Homo sapiens: one gene and its partners. The protein of the gene in region 2 purifies or fractionates together with the protein of the main gene of each other region. This does not show direct contact. Each region holds a gene or a part of one and is shown on either strand. Other genes may lie near its edges.

Region 1 (3,714 bases), on a different chromosome or scaffold from region 2:
ACTGAGCAGTCCTCAGGGTTACTGGCTATCTGTCCAGTCTGAAGATCGAGCCGCCCGTCCCTTCTCTTTCTCTGGCTCCAGTAAGCCAGGCATCTCAGCTCCATGCAGAACCTTCTTCACTTCCACCTCCAGGCCTTTACCCTGCTTTCCTGCTTTTCTGCCTAGTTAGATTCATCCATCCGTGCTTTGAGGCTCCCTTCCCTCATGCAAGCTTTGTGTATTGCCCTAGGCCACGCTGATCCTTTTCTTTTTTTTTTTCAGTATTTATTGATCATTCTTGGGTGTTTCTCAGAGAGGGGGATGTGGCAGGGTCATAGGATAATAGTGGAGAGAAGGTCAGCAGATAAACACGTGAACAAAGGTCTCTGGTTTTCCTAGGCAGAGGACCCTGCAGCCTTCCTCAGTGTTTATGTCCCTGGGTACTTGAGATTAGGGAGTGGTGATGACTCTTAACGAGCATGCTGCCTTCAAGCATCTGTTTAACAAAGCACATCTTGCACCACCCTTAATCCATTTAACCCTGAGTGGACACAGCACATGTTTCAGAGAGCACGGGGTTGGGGGTAAGGTTATAGACTAACAGCATCCCAAGGCAGAAGAATTTTTCTTAGTACAGAACAAAATGGAGTCTCCTATGTCTACTTCTTTCTACACAGACACAGTAACAATCTGATCTCTCTTTCTTTTCCCCACATTTCCCCCTTTTCTTTTTGACAAAACTGCCATCGTCATCATGGCCCATTCTCAATGGTCGCTGTCTCTTCGGAGCTGTTGGGTACACCTCCCAGACCGGGCGGCCGGGCAGAGGCACTTCTCACTTCCCAGACGGGGCGGCTGGGCAGAGGCGCTCCTCACTTCCCAGACGGGGCGGCCAGGCAGAGGTGCTCCACACCTCCCAGACGGGGCGGCCGGGCAGAGGCGCTCCTCACCTCCCAGACGGGGCGGCCGGGCAGAGGCGCTCCTCACATCCCAGACGATGGGCAGCCGGGCAGAGACGCTCCTCACCTCCCAGACGGGGCGGCCGGGCAGAGGCGCTTCTCACCTCCCAGACAGACGATGGGCAGCCAGGCAGAGGCGCTCCTCACTTCCTAGACGGGGTGGCGGCCAGGCAGAGGTGCTCCTCACTTCCCAGATGGGGCGGCCAGGCAGAAGGGCTCCTAACCTCCCAGACGGGGCGGCTGGGCAGAGGTGCTCCTCACCTCCCAGATGGGGCGGCCGGGCAGAGGGGCTCCTCACCTCCCAGACGGGGCGGCCGGGCAGAAGGGCTCCTCACATCCCAGACGGGGCGGCCGGGCAGAGGGGCTCCTTACTTCCCAGACGGGGTGGCCGGGCAGAGGCGCTCCTCACATCCCAGACGATGGGCAGCCGGGCAGAGGCGCTTCTCACCTCCCAGACAGGGCAGCCGGGCAGAGGGGCTCCTCACTTCCCAGACGGGGCAGCTGGGCAGAGGCGCTCCTCACTTCCCAGACGGGGCGGCCGGGCAGAGGCGCTCCTCACATCCCAGACGATGGGCAGCCAGGCAGAGGCGCTCCTCACTTCCTAGACGGGGCAGCTGGGCAGAGGCGCTCCTCACTTCCCAGACGGGGCGGCCGGGCAGAGGCGCTCCTCACATCCCAGACGATGGGCAGCTGGGCAGAGGCGCTTCTCACCTCCCAGATGGGGTGGCCGGGCAGAGGGGCTCCTCACATCCCAGACGATGGGCGGCCAGGCAGAGACGCTCCTCACTTCCTAGATGGGGTGGCGGCCGGGCAGAGCCTGTAATCTTAGCACTTTTGGAGGCCAAGGCAGGCGGCTGGGAGGTGGAGGTTGTAGCGAGCCGAGATCACGCCACTGCACTCCAGCCTGGGCAACATTGAGCATTGAGTGAGCGAGACTCCGTCTGCAATCCCAGCACCTCGGGAGGCCGAGGCGGGCAGATCACTCGAGGTCAAGAGCTGGAGACCAGCCTGGTCAACACGGCGAAACCCCGTCTCCACCAAAAATACAAAAACCAGTCAGGTGTGGCGGCGTGTGCCTGCGATCCCAGGCACTCGGCAGGCCGAGGCAGGAGAATCACGGGAGCCCGAGGCAGGGAGGTTGCAGGGAGCTGAGATCACGGCAGTACAGTCCAGCCTCAGCAACAGAGGGAGAAGGAAGAAGCGAGGGAGAGGGGGAGGGTTGGGGGAGGGGGGAGGGAGATCCCTTTCTAACCTGATCTCCTGATAAGCCTAGTAATCAAAAACAGAATAGCAAGCTGTTGGCCAGACATGGTGGCTCACAGCTGTAATCCCAGCACTATGGATGGCTGATGTGGGTTGATTATTGAGCCCAGGAATTTGAGGCCAGCCTGGGCAACATAGTGAGACCTCATCTCTACAAAAAATAATAATAATAATAATAATAATAATAAAATAAAATTAGCTGGGCATAGTGGCATGCACCTGTGGTCCCAGTTACTCAGGAGACTGAGGTGGAAGGAATGCTTGAGCCTGGGAGGCCAAGGCTGCAGTGAGCTGTGATCACACCACTGTACTCCAGCCTAGGTGACCCTGTCTCCAAAAAACAAAACAAAAAAACAGAATAGCAAGCTATTAAGAGCACAGGTCTTGAATTAACATAAACCCAGGTTTGAATTGTGTGTGTTATTCAGGACGACTGGGTTGCAAGTGACAGAAAGCCAGTGTGAACTGCACCATCCTTAGCAAAAAGGAATGTGTTGGCTCATATGGCCAGATCATGAACTGGCAACATGAACACTGTCAGCACTTTTTCTCCCCCTTTCCCTGATCCTCTCTGCGAGGCTACTTCATTCTTACCTGGATGTCCCTTGAGGGTGGAACCTTGGCTGTAGGCAGTCCTGGGCTTGCACCCTTAGAACCCAGCACTATAAAGGAAGGAGCTCTTTTCCTCACCTGCAGTTGGAAAAGTCCCACTGGGCCAGTCTAGATCACTGGCCCTTCCTGTGGCTAAGAAAATATCATGTCTTACCAGAAGAAGCAGTGGGTGGGAAATAGGCTGACAAAAGGAATTGTTGCCACAGCTCCTTACTACACGGGTGGCTTTGGCTAAGCACCTAATCCCTCTAAGCCTCAGTATCCTCATCTGTAAAGCAGATGCGTGGATTAGATGAGATAGTGCAGGTAAAGACCTAGCATTGCACATAGTTGGTGTTCAGTGAGGGGGTGGAAGATACCGAGTAGAGGGGACAGGAAGACTTAGCTGACCTAGGGAAGGCCTACCCAACCTGTCTTGCCTGCCACTAGAAAATGAGATTTCTCCCAAGAGCTTGCCTCCCTGTCCTGGGGTACTCTACCAGCCAGTATGGATCATCCTTGGAACTGGCAGGAAGGGATCTCAGAAAATTAGGGAAGCAACAGCAGTATCGACAGAAGACAGTCTTTGCAGTGCCTCTAAGCTAATGTTTGCCACTACAAAAGGAGTAACTGGTCGTTGTGACTGTTTTAATCAGCCAGTAGTTGCTGAGCATGGACCAGGGCCTGAGCTCAGAACTCTGGAGGAATACAGATTTGTGGTCCATGGCGCCTGTTCTTGGCACAAACGAGACGATGAAACCCACACCTCAGTCCTCTTAGGATGTGGCTGGCTGCTTGTCCCTGGAGGTGTGCAAGTAATTGCAGGGACTCTGTAAAGAGGATTTGGACTCTGATAGGGAGGTGGGTGAGTTGGGAGAACCTTAAAGGTCACCCCTGTTCTCGAGGGTCTAGATGGGAGAGT
Region 2 (4,371 bases):
CTGCTCCAGTTCCCCATCCGTGGCAAGCCGGTAGAGCCATTCATCCCCGCAGCCTTCTTCCTGACCCTCGTACAGTTTCAAATGCAGCAGACAGCCAAAGCAATGAGTGGGGGGCTGTGGAACTTCATTCCCAAAGGCAGCGCCAGTGGCTCCTGAGCAATGAGAATGTCCTGTCCTGTCCACCATATTCAAGGCCAGCAGAAGAGCCCGATTAAACCCTCGCAGCACCTGGCATGCTCCTATCCCACCTACAAGGGGTTGAATCAAGAAGGAGCAGTGGGTACTCTGACCTCCACTGGGGGCTCCTGGGAACAGCATGCCCCCCACACGGGGCCACCTGCCAAGCCTAACTTCATGCCCCCAGTACTTGAGATGAGGAGTGTCACTCTCAGGACAGCCAAGGTCCAGATTCCAGAAAGGACCTCCCAGATGGCCACAGCCTGCACCAGCAGTGAGCGCCAGTCCCACCCATTACAGCTGGCTACGGCGCAATCCCTGGGAGCCAGGATGAGCAGCACCCCCCAGCCGTAGGAGCCCCAGGAGGCTTCCGGCCTCCAAGGCCCAGAGACTGCCCCACAAGGGCAGCCCTCACCTGGCAGGGCCCCAGCAGCCCCACCTCTGCCTGCAGACATCCGTGTGACCTTGTAGACTTTGGAGGGGGGCCGCCAAAGGGCTGATCCACAGCGGAATGACGCACGGGTGGGCACCGTGGGTTGGCGTCCCGGCGGTCGGTAACGAAGCACAACGCCCCCACCAGGTAGTCCAAGGTGCCCTTTCCCAAGCAGCGCTGCAGGGTCCACTCGGCCTCGCCGAAGTCTCTGCCCAGCACGTGGTGCGCCCTCGGGCCAGCGGGGAGGGGGCGAATCCCGGGACTGCCTCGCCAGGCCTCGGCTCCCCGGAGACTCTTGGGGGTCTGGGCCCCAAGGGTGATTCAGGTGCTGCCCTTCCCCGACCTGGGCTCGCCTCCCCCACCTCCTCCTCTGCTTCACTGTCCCGGGCCCAGCAGTTGCCGGCGCACTCATGCTCCGAGGCCTGAGCCAACCGGAGGCGAGACAAGCACAGGGCCCTGCGCGCAACCCGGCACCTAAGGAGGCCTGCCCGGTGCAGACTCTCCTGCTCCCACCGGCGCCCTTCCCTCTAGAGACGCTGAGAGAACGGGAGCTAGTAGCGCCCCCACCCAACGCCACCTCGGAGACTCCGGCTCCTTCTCTCTCAACTTCGAACAATACAAAGTGTGCTAGGAGAAGACAAGATGGCGCCCAGCAGGAGGAGCGGAGAAAGGCAGGGGTGTAAATCTGGCTTCCAAACTGGAAGCGTCAACAAAGGCGTGGGAGGTCTAACCGCGCAGGCGTGCAGCTTCGGCAAGCTTTACAATTCCAACAGCGCGTCCAAAACGTGGTCCCTGACTGAGACTTATTTTACGCCACTAGAGTGAGGGTGGGTAGCGTCAGAAAGAGCGGGGCACGGGGCGGGCCAGCTTCGCCGCGGGAAAAGAACGGGAGGCGGAGTGTCCGCAGCGCGCACGCGCAACGAAAGTCAATGGCGGTCTGGAGAGACTGGCGGAAGCTAGCTTTGCAATATGGCGGCCGAGGCGGACGGACCGCTTAAACGGCTGCTCGTGCCGATTCTTTTACCTGAGAAATGCTACGACCAACTTTTCGTTCAGTGGGACTTGCTTCACGGTGAGTTTTATTCAGCATCCGATCCAAGTCCTACTCGAGTGACCGTGGGCCCTTAGTCCAAGCCTTGATCGGCGACTAAGTGACGGCAGTGACTGCCGCCATGCCGAGCTGGACGGAAGTCACTTCTGAGAAGGGCGGAAGTGTCTCGGGCTCCTTAGAGGGAGGACACCATATTAGTGCCAGTGGGGAAGTCACCGGGTGGAATTACTTCTTTGTGGAGTTTGTGCTGTAGCGACAATGAAAAACGAAGAGTCAACTTTTATAAAACAAAATAAAAATTAAGTCAAATCATGCCAACCTTTATTAGATCGCTAGCAGGGTTAAACTTAATTCAAAGCCCCTGATGAATCGGGCCTTCATTGCACCCCCAAAGGCTCCGCCACCCTGATTGCTTTCTTTCCAGCCTCCAGGTTTGCTCATAGTCTGATTTCGGAATAATTTGCCTCCCTTCCTTTTTCTGATTGCGAGACAGCTCCACAAGGGTCACCGTCAGACCGTTTGGGGAGCGTCAGTCTGCCCCTGTCAGTTCATGGTACCTCTCTTGAGCTCGTGGGGCACTTTGTTTTAGCCGCATTCATGACCCGTGAGAGTCAGACTCCCACTAGACCAAGTTCCTTGAGGGGAAGGCTTCAAGGCTAGAGAAGTTGTGGATGGCCAGGGCATAAAAGCAAGCCTTGAAAGGGTAAGGTTTAGTCCCTGAGTAGGGGCCAGGGACAGTCAGAGTGTTCAAGAAAGAGTGGTATGGGGCGGGCACGGTGGCTCACGCCTGTAATCCCAGCACTTTGGGAGGCCGAAGCGGGTGGATCACCTGAGGTCAGGCGTTCGAGACCAGCCTGGCCAATAGGGCGAAACCCCGCCTCTACTAAAAATACAAAAAATTAGCCGGGCGTTGTGGCAGGCGCCTGTAATCCCAGCTACTCGGGAGGCTGAGGCAGGAGAATCGCTTAAACCCGGGAGACAGAGGTTACAGTGAGCCAAGATCGTGCCATTGCACTCCAGCCTGGGCAACAAGAGTGAAACTCCGTCTCAAAATTAAAATAAGAAAAAAAAAATGGTATGAAGACTTGTCTTTGGAGAGAGAAGACATGTGAAATGGGGCACCCATTGGCCCAGAGAAGGGAAATAAAGGATCAGAGAGCTCTTGGGCATTTCTCAGCTTTATATGGGGAAGCAATGGAGAGCCGTGGAGGTCAAGCCAAGTTTGGGTGTTAATTTATAGGGAATGGAAGATTGGATGTGGGGGGTGGTAGGCATCGGAGAAAAGCTGTTTTGGAAAGTAACAGTCTGGGGCCCGGTGCGGTAGCTCGAGCTTATAATCCCAGCACTTTAAGGAGGCTGAGGCAGGTGGATCATCTGAGGTCAGGAGTTCGAGACCAGCCTGGCCAACATGGTGAAACCCTGTCTCTACTAAAAACACAAAAATTAACCGGGCATGGTGGTGTGTGCCTGTAATTCTAGCTACTTGGGAGGCTGAGACAAGAGAATTGCTTGAACCCAAGAGGCAGAGGCTGCAGTGGGCTGAGATTGGGCCACTGCACTCCAGCCTGGGTGACAGAGCAAGACTCTGTCTCCAAAAAAAAAAAAAAGTGTGGTGGTTTGGAGCAGGAAGGACCAGGACTTTCTCACTGCCCTCCGCCTCTCCTCCCCCCAAGACAATGCAAGACCCTGGTGTGGGTAAGGGGGCTCGGGGAGAGCCCACAGGAGCTTCAAGCCCTGGCCTGGGTTTCAGACATCTCCTGTCTGCTTACCCTTTTTTCTCTCCTCAGTCCCCTGCCTCAAGATTCTCCTCAGCAAAGGCCTGGGGCTGGGCATTGTGGCTGGCTCACTTCTAGGTATGTCTCTTATCTTTCTTTCCAGCTGTTGGGTTGGGGTGGAGGTGCTGAGAGGCCATCAACTGTGTGGGTGTTCGTTCTATAGCTGTTGTGTTGCATCCCAAAGAATGGAGAGTCCTCAGTCCTACTTTTCTCATCTTTCCCCTAGTAAAGCTGCCCCAGGTGTTTAAAATCCTGGGAGCCAAGAGTGCTGAAGGGTTGAGTCTCCAGTCTGTAATGCTGGAGCTAGTGGCATTGACTGGGACCATGGTCTACAGCATCACTAACAACTTCCCATTCAGGTGAGGGGCCCACCCTTCCACCCCAAGGGTAATACCCACAACTCTAATGGGGATTAAGGTGAAGGAGGTTACAAGGCAGCAAAGTGGCCGGGCCCAGTGGCTTGCACCTGTAACCCCAGCACTTTGGGAGGCCGAGGCGGGTGGATCACCTGAGGTCAGGAGTTCGAACTGGCCAACATGGTGAAACCCCGTCTCTACTAAAAATACAAAATTAGCTGGGTGTGGTGATGGGCACCTGTAATCCCAGCTACTTGGGAGGCTGAGGCAGGAGAATCACTTGAACCTGGGAGGCAGAGGTTGCAGTGAGCCAAGATTGCGCCACTGCACTCCAGCCTGGGCAACAAGAGCGAAACTCAGTCTTAAAAAAAAAAAAAAGGGACAAGGGGCTAGGAAAGTTTTAAGCCCTTTTAGAAACCTAATCATCACCAGTGGAGGTGATCTTGAGAAGGGGTGAGCATCCCGAGAATGGCCACGATTCAGAATGAGCCAGTCCCGTGTGGGGGCTGTAGAGAAGCGTGATCAGAGCATAGTGTCCCTGGATGGATGGGCTATGGAGGCTTTCCCTGCCTCTTTCTA
Region 3 (3,500 bases), about 69 Mb from region 2:
CCCCGCAGCTGCTGGCTCTTTTTTTCTCTGTTCACTTGGCCTCCCCAGATGCTGTACCAGGGTCTGGAGAAGCTCGAAAAGGAAAAGGCCAACAGGGAGCACCTGGAGATGGAGATCGATGTGGTGGGTGCCAGGCCCCAGGAGCCACGCTGTGTCCCAGGGCGGTCTCGCTGACTGTTCTTTGAGAGACTGAGTGGAGGGGAGCTGGCGAGACGAGTGTGGGCTCTCAGAAACCTGCCTGGTGATAGGGGTCGACACCCCCAGGGAATGGGGCCCCTCCATGGCCATCTCCCAGATGCGGGGACCTCTGTCTGTCTCTGGGCAGAAAGCCGACAAGAGTGCTCTGGCCACCAAAGTGAGCCGTGTCCAGTTTGATGCCACCACGGAGCAGCTGAACCACATGATGCAGGAGCTGGTGGCCAAGATGAGCGGGCAGGAGCAGGACTGGCAGAAGATGCTGGACAGGCTGCTCACAGAGATGGACAACAAGGTGAGGCAGGGGCATGGCGGGGCTCTCCATCCCACAGCCTTGCCCCCAGGATCGGGACAGCACCACCTTCTCCTGGGTCAGCCCCCTACCTGCTTCCTTAGAGGTCCCCTGGCCCCTCTTTCCCCGCCACAGCTGGACCGCCTGGAGCTGGACCCAGTGAAGCAGTTGCTGGAGGATCGGTGGAAATCGCTGCGACAGCAGCTCAGGGAGCGCCCCCCACTCTACCAGGCAGACGAGGCGGCTGCCATGCGGAGGTGAGGCCTGGGAGGCAGGGGAGGAGGCTGGCACGCTCTTCAGGGGGTGAGGGCAGAGGGGGCTGGGGGTCTCCAGACAAACAGCTCCTGCCAGCACACAGCGGATCCTGCCCAGGACTGTCCCATGGTTGGAGGGACAGAATTTTAGAGCTTGAAACGCTCTTCTAGCTCAGGCCCCTTCGTATTACAGCAGAGAAAGGGAGGAGGGGAGGCTTAAGGCTCTCAGGGTTTGGCTGAGCTAAGCTGGGCCTTTGGGACAGGGAGAGGTCCTCAGTACCCAGAGCTGAGACAGCTCCTGGGGGCCTGGCCCATAGGACCTGGCCCGTGGTAGGCTTGAATTCCAGGATTCCCATTCGTGGCCGCCAGGGGGCGCCCGAGACTTGCACAGGGCACCCTCAGGGGCCCATGGGAAGCCTGCTGGCTTTGGGTTAGGACAGGGAGGTCTGGGATGTGAGCCCAGAGGTGGGAGCAGATGGATTCCTGGGGAGCAGGGACATGATCTGCACCCTGGTGGGCTGAGCTTCCAGGGGCCTGCAGAGCCCCAAGCCCTTCTGGGTCTTCCGGGCAGAGCACTCACCCTGCGTGTGCGTCCCATTCCTAACAGGCAGCTCCTGGCACATTTCCACTGCCTCTCATGTGACCGGCCCTTGGAGACACCTGTGACTGGACAGTGAGTGCCCACACCGCCGGCACGTGGCCTCGCATGGCAGGGCTGCGTCTCCTCCCTTCACCTGTGTCCACCTGTCCTCTCCCTTTCTTTCATGTGTCTGCTTCCAGCCCTCGCTCCCTTCCAGGCCGGGGGCGGGTGGGAAGGTTCTTTAGGCAGGTGGATTTGGGGGACCGGACTTGTCCCACTCTGACCCGCCCCTTCTCCCTCTGTCCCTGCCCAGTGCCATCCCCGTGACCCCCGCGGGTCCAGGCCTACCTGGGCACCATTCCATCCGCCCCTACACGGTGTTTGAACTGGAGCAGGTCCGGCAGCATAGCCGCAAGTATGCTATGGGACAGCATATGGGACATATGGGTCCGGGGCCAGGGCTCTGGATGGGGAAGGCAGGGGACAGGGATGACTCCGGAGGGCCCAGCGGAACGTGACAGAAGGCAGTGCTGTGGGACAGTGTGGAGAGCCTCCTCCTTGGAATGGGACAGTGGGGGCCGCAGGCCGATTTCTGAACTAGCTCCCTGGCAGTTCCCAAGGCATGAGCGTAGGAGGCAGACCTAGTCACACCTGCTTTTGGGAGTTACGGTGGGACTTCGTCAAGGGCGCCAGCTGCCTCTGAGAGCTCCTCTACTTCTCAACCTCTTCCTCAGCCTTCGGCTGTCTCAGCAACCCCGGGATTAGAGCGGTGGGGGGAGGGTCCGGTATAGCTCAGCCAGAGGGTGGGCTCAGCCAACGAAGGAGGCTGGCGGTGGGCATCTCATGCTCCCTCCGGCTCCTGCCCACCTCTCTGCTGCTCCCCTTCTCCTAAGGATGGGAGTCCATAGTTCAGAGGACTTCAGGCTGCTCTTGGAGCCCTGTGGGTTCCAGGTATGCTAGGCCAGGTGCGCCGAGATGGGAAGGCCCGGGGCTGCCCTCAGCTCCTCCACCCACAGCTGCAGACAGGCAGCAGGGCTTTCTTCCATTTGGCTGGCCTGCACTTCCCCATCTGAGGAAAGCCTTCCCGGCAAGTCTGGCCCTCAGATGCTGTGGAAAGGACTACTGCTGAGGGGTCAAGCTGCCCAGCGACCCCCAGCCTAGCTGGGTCCTGCACAAAAGGGACCCGGAACTGAAGGATTCGGCTTACACAAGGTCAAGGCCCCCGCCATGGGCCAACCCTCCCTCTGTTCTGCTCACACCCTGCAGCCTCAAGCTGGGCAGCGCCTTCCCTCGGGGTGACCTGGCGCAGATGGAGCAGAGCGTGGGGCGCCTGCGCTCCATGCACTCCAAGATGCTGATGAACATTGAGAAGGTGCAGATCCACTTCGGGGGCTCCACCAAGGCCAGCAGCCAGATAATCCGCGAGCTGCTGCACGCCCAGTGCCTGGGCTCCCCCTGCTACAAACGGTACAGGAGAGGCGGGCGAGGCCATGGGAGCAGGCACCCAGTGACCAGGCTTGGCTTCTGCTCGTGCACGGCTGTGCAAATGCCTTGCCCCACTGCTGGGGGAGAAAAGGGAGTGTGTGTGTGTGAGAGAAAGTGTGGGCGAGGGGTGTTAGTGTGTGTGATGTGTGTAAGCCATGTGTCTATGGGTGTGTCAATGTATGAGTGTGTGTAAGGGTGTGTGTGTATGAGTGCGTGTGTGTATGAGTGTGGGAGTGAGTGCGTGAGTGTGGGTGTTTGAGTATGTGTGTGCATGTATGAGTACGTGTGTATGAGTACGTGTGTGTGTGTGCATGTGTATGAGTATGTATGTATATGTTCGTGTGTATGTGCATCTTCGTGTGTATGTGCATAAGTATGTGTGTGTGCATGTATGTGTGTGTGTGACTGTGTGTATGAGTACATGTGTGAGTGTGTGGGTGTGTGTGTGCACGCCTGCCCATGTGCACAGTCACTGGGGTGGCCCGGCCTCACGGCTGCTCTACCCCCGCCCGCCTGTTCTGGGCCCCTGCTGCTCAGCCTCCCGGCAGCCCCCGAAGAGAAGCTGTGCCCCTTCCCTCTGGTCAGCCCCATGGGTGGGTGAGTCCCAGGTGACATCCCTGGTGGTCTGCTCCCAATGACTCCATCCTGTCTTCATCACAGGGTGACAGATATGGCTGATTACACCTACTCAACT

The links.
Region 1: the proteins of MPDU1 (region 2) and CLN6 purify together in Homo sapiens (co-immunoprecipitation; one large-scale study listed by IntAct). This does not show direct contact.
Region 3: the proteins of MPDU1 (region 2) and QRICH2 purify together in Homo sapiens (affinity purification with mass spectrometry; one large-scale study listed by BioGRID and IntAct). This does not show direct contact.

The regions. Positions count from the first base shown.
Region 1 is NC_000015.10:68,219,675-68,223,388, reverse strand, and holds part of CLN6 (ceroid-lipofuscinosis neuronal protein 6), read left to right. Parts: intron 1-3,714.
Region 2 is NC_000017.11:7,582,284-7,586,654, forward strand, and holds the start of MPDU1 (mannose-P-dolichol utilization defect 1 protein), read left to right. Parts: upstream 1-1,568; 5' UTR 1,569-1,579; coding exon 1,580-1,682; exon of another isoform or gene 1,683-1,809; intron 1,810-3,448; coding exon 3,449-3,514; intron 3,515-3,662; coding exon 3,663-3,795; intron 3,796-4,371. UniProt on the Homo sapiens protein: Required for normal utilization of mannose-dolichol phosphate (Dol-P-Man) in the synthesis of N-linked and O-linked oligosaccharides and GPI anchors.
Region 3 is NC_000017.11:76,277,277-76,280,776, reverse strand, and holds part of QRICH2 (glutamine-rich protein 2), read left to right. Parts: intron 1-48; coding exon 49-123; intron 124-325; coding exon 326-490; intron 491-622; coding exon 623-744; intron 745-1,348; coding exon 1,349-1,414; intron 1,415-1,634; coding exon 1,635-1,736; intron 1,737-2,587; coding exon 2,588-2,788; intron 2,789-3,466; coding exon 3,467-3,500. UniProt on the Homo sapiens protein: Has an essential role in the formation of sperm flagella and flagellar structure maintainance. It acts as a suppressor of ubiquitination and degradation of proteins involved in flagellar development and motility.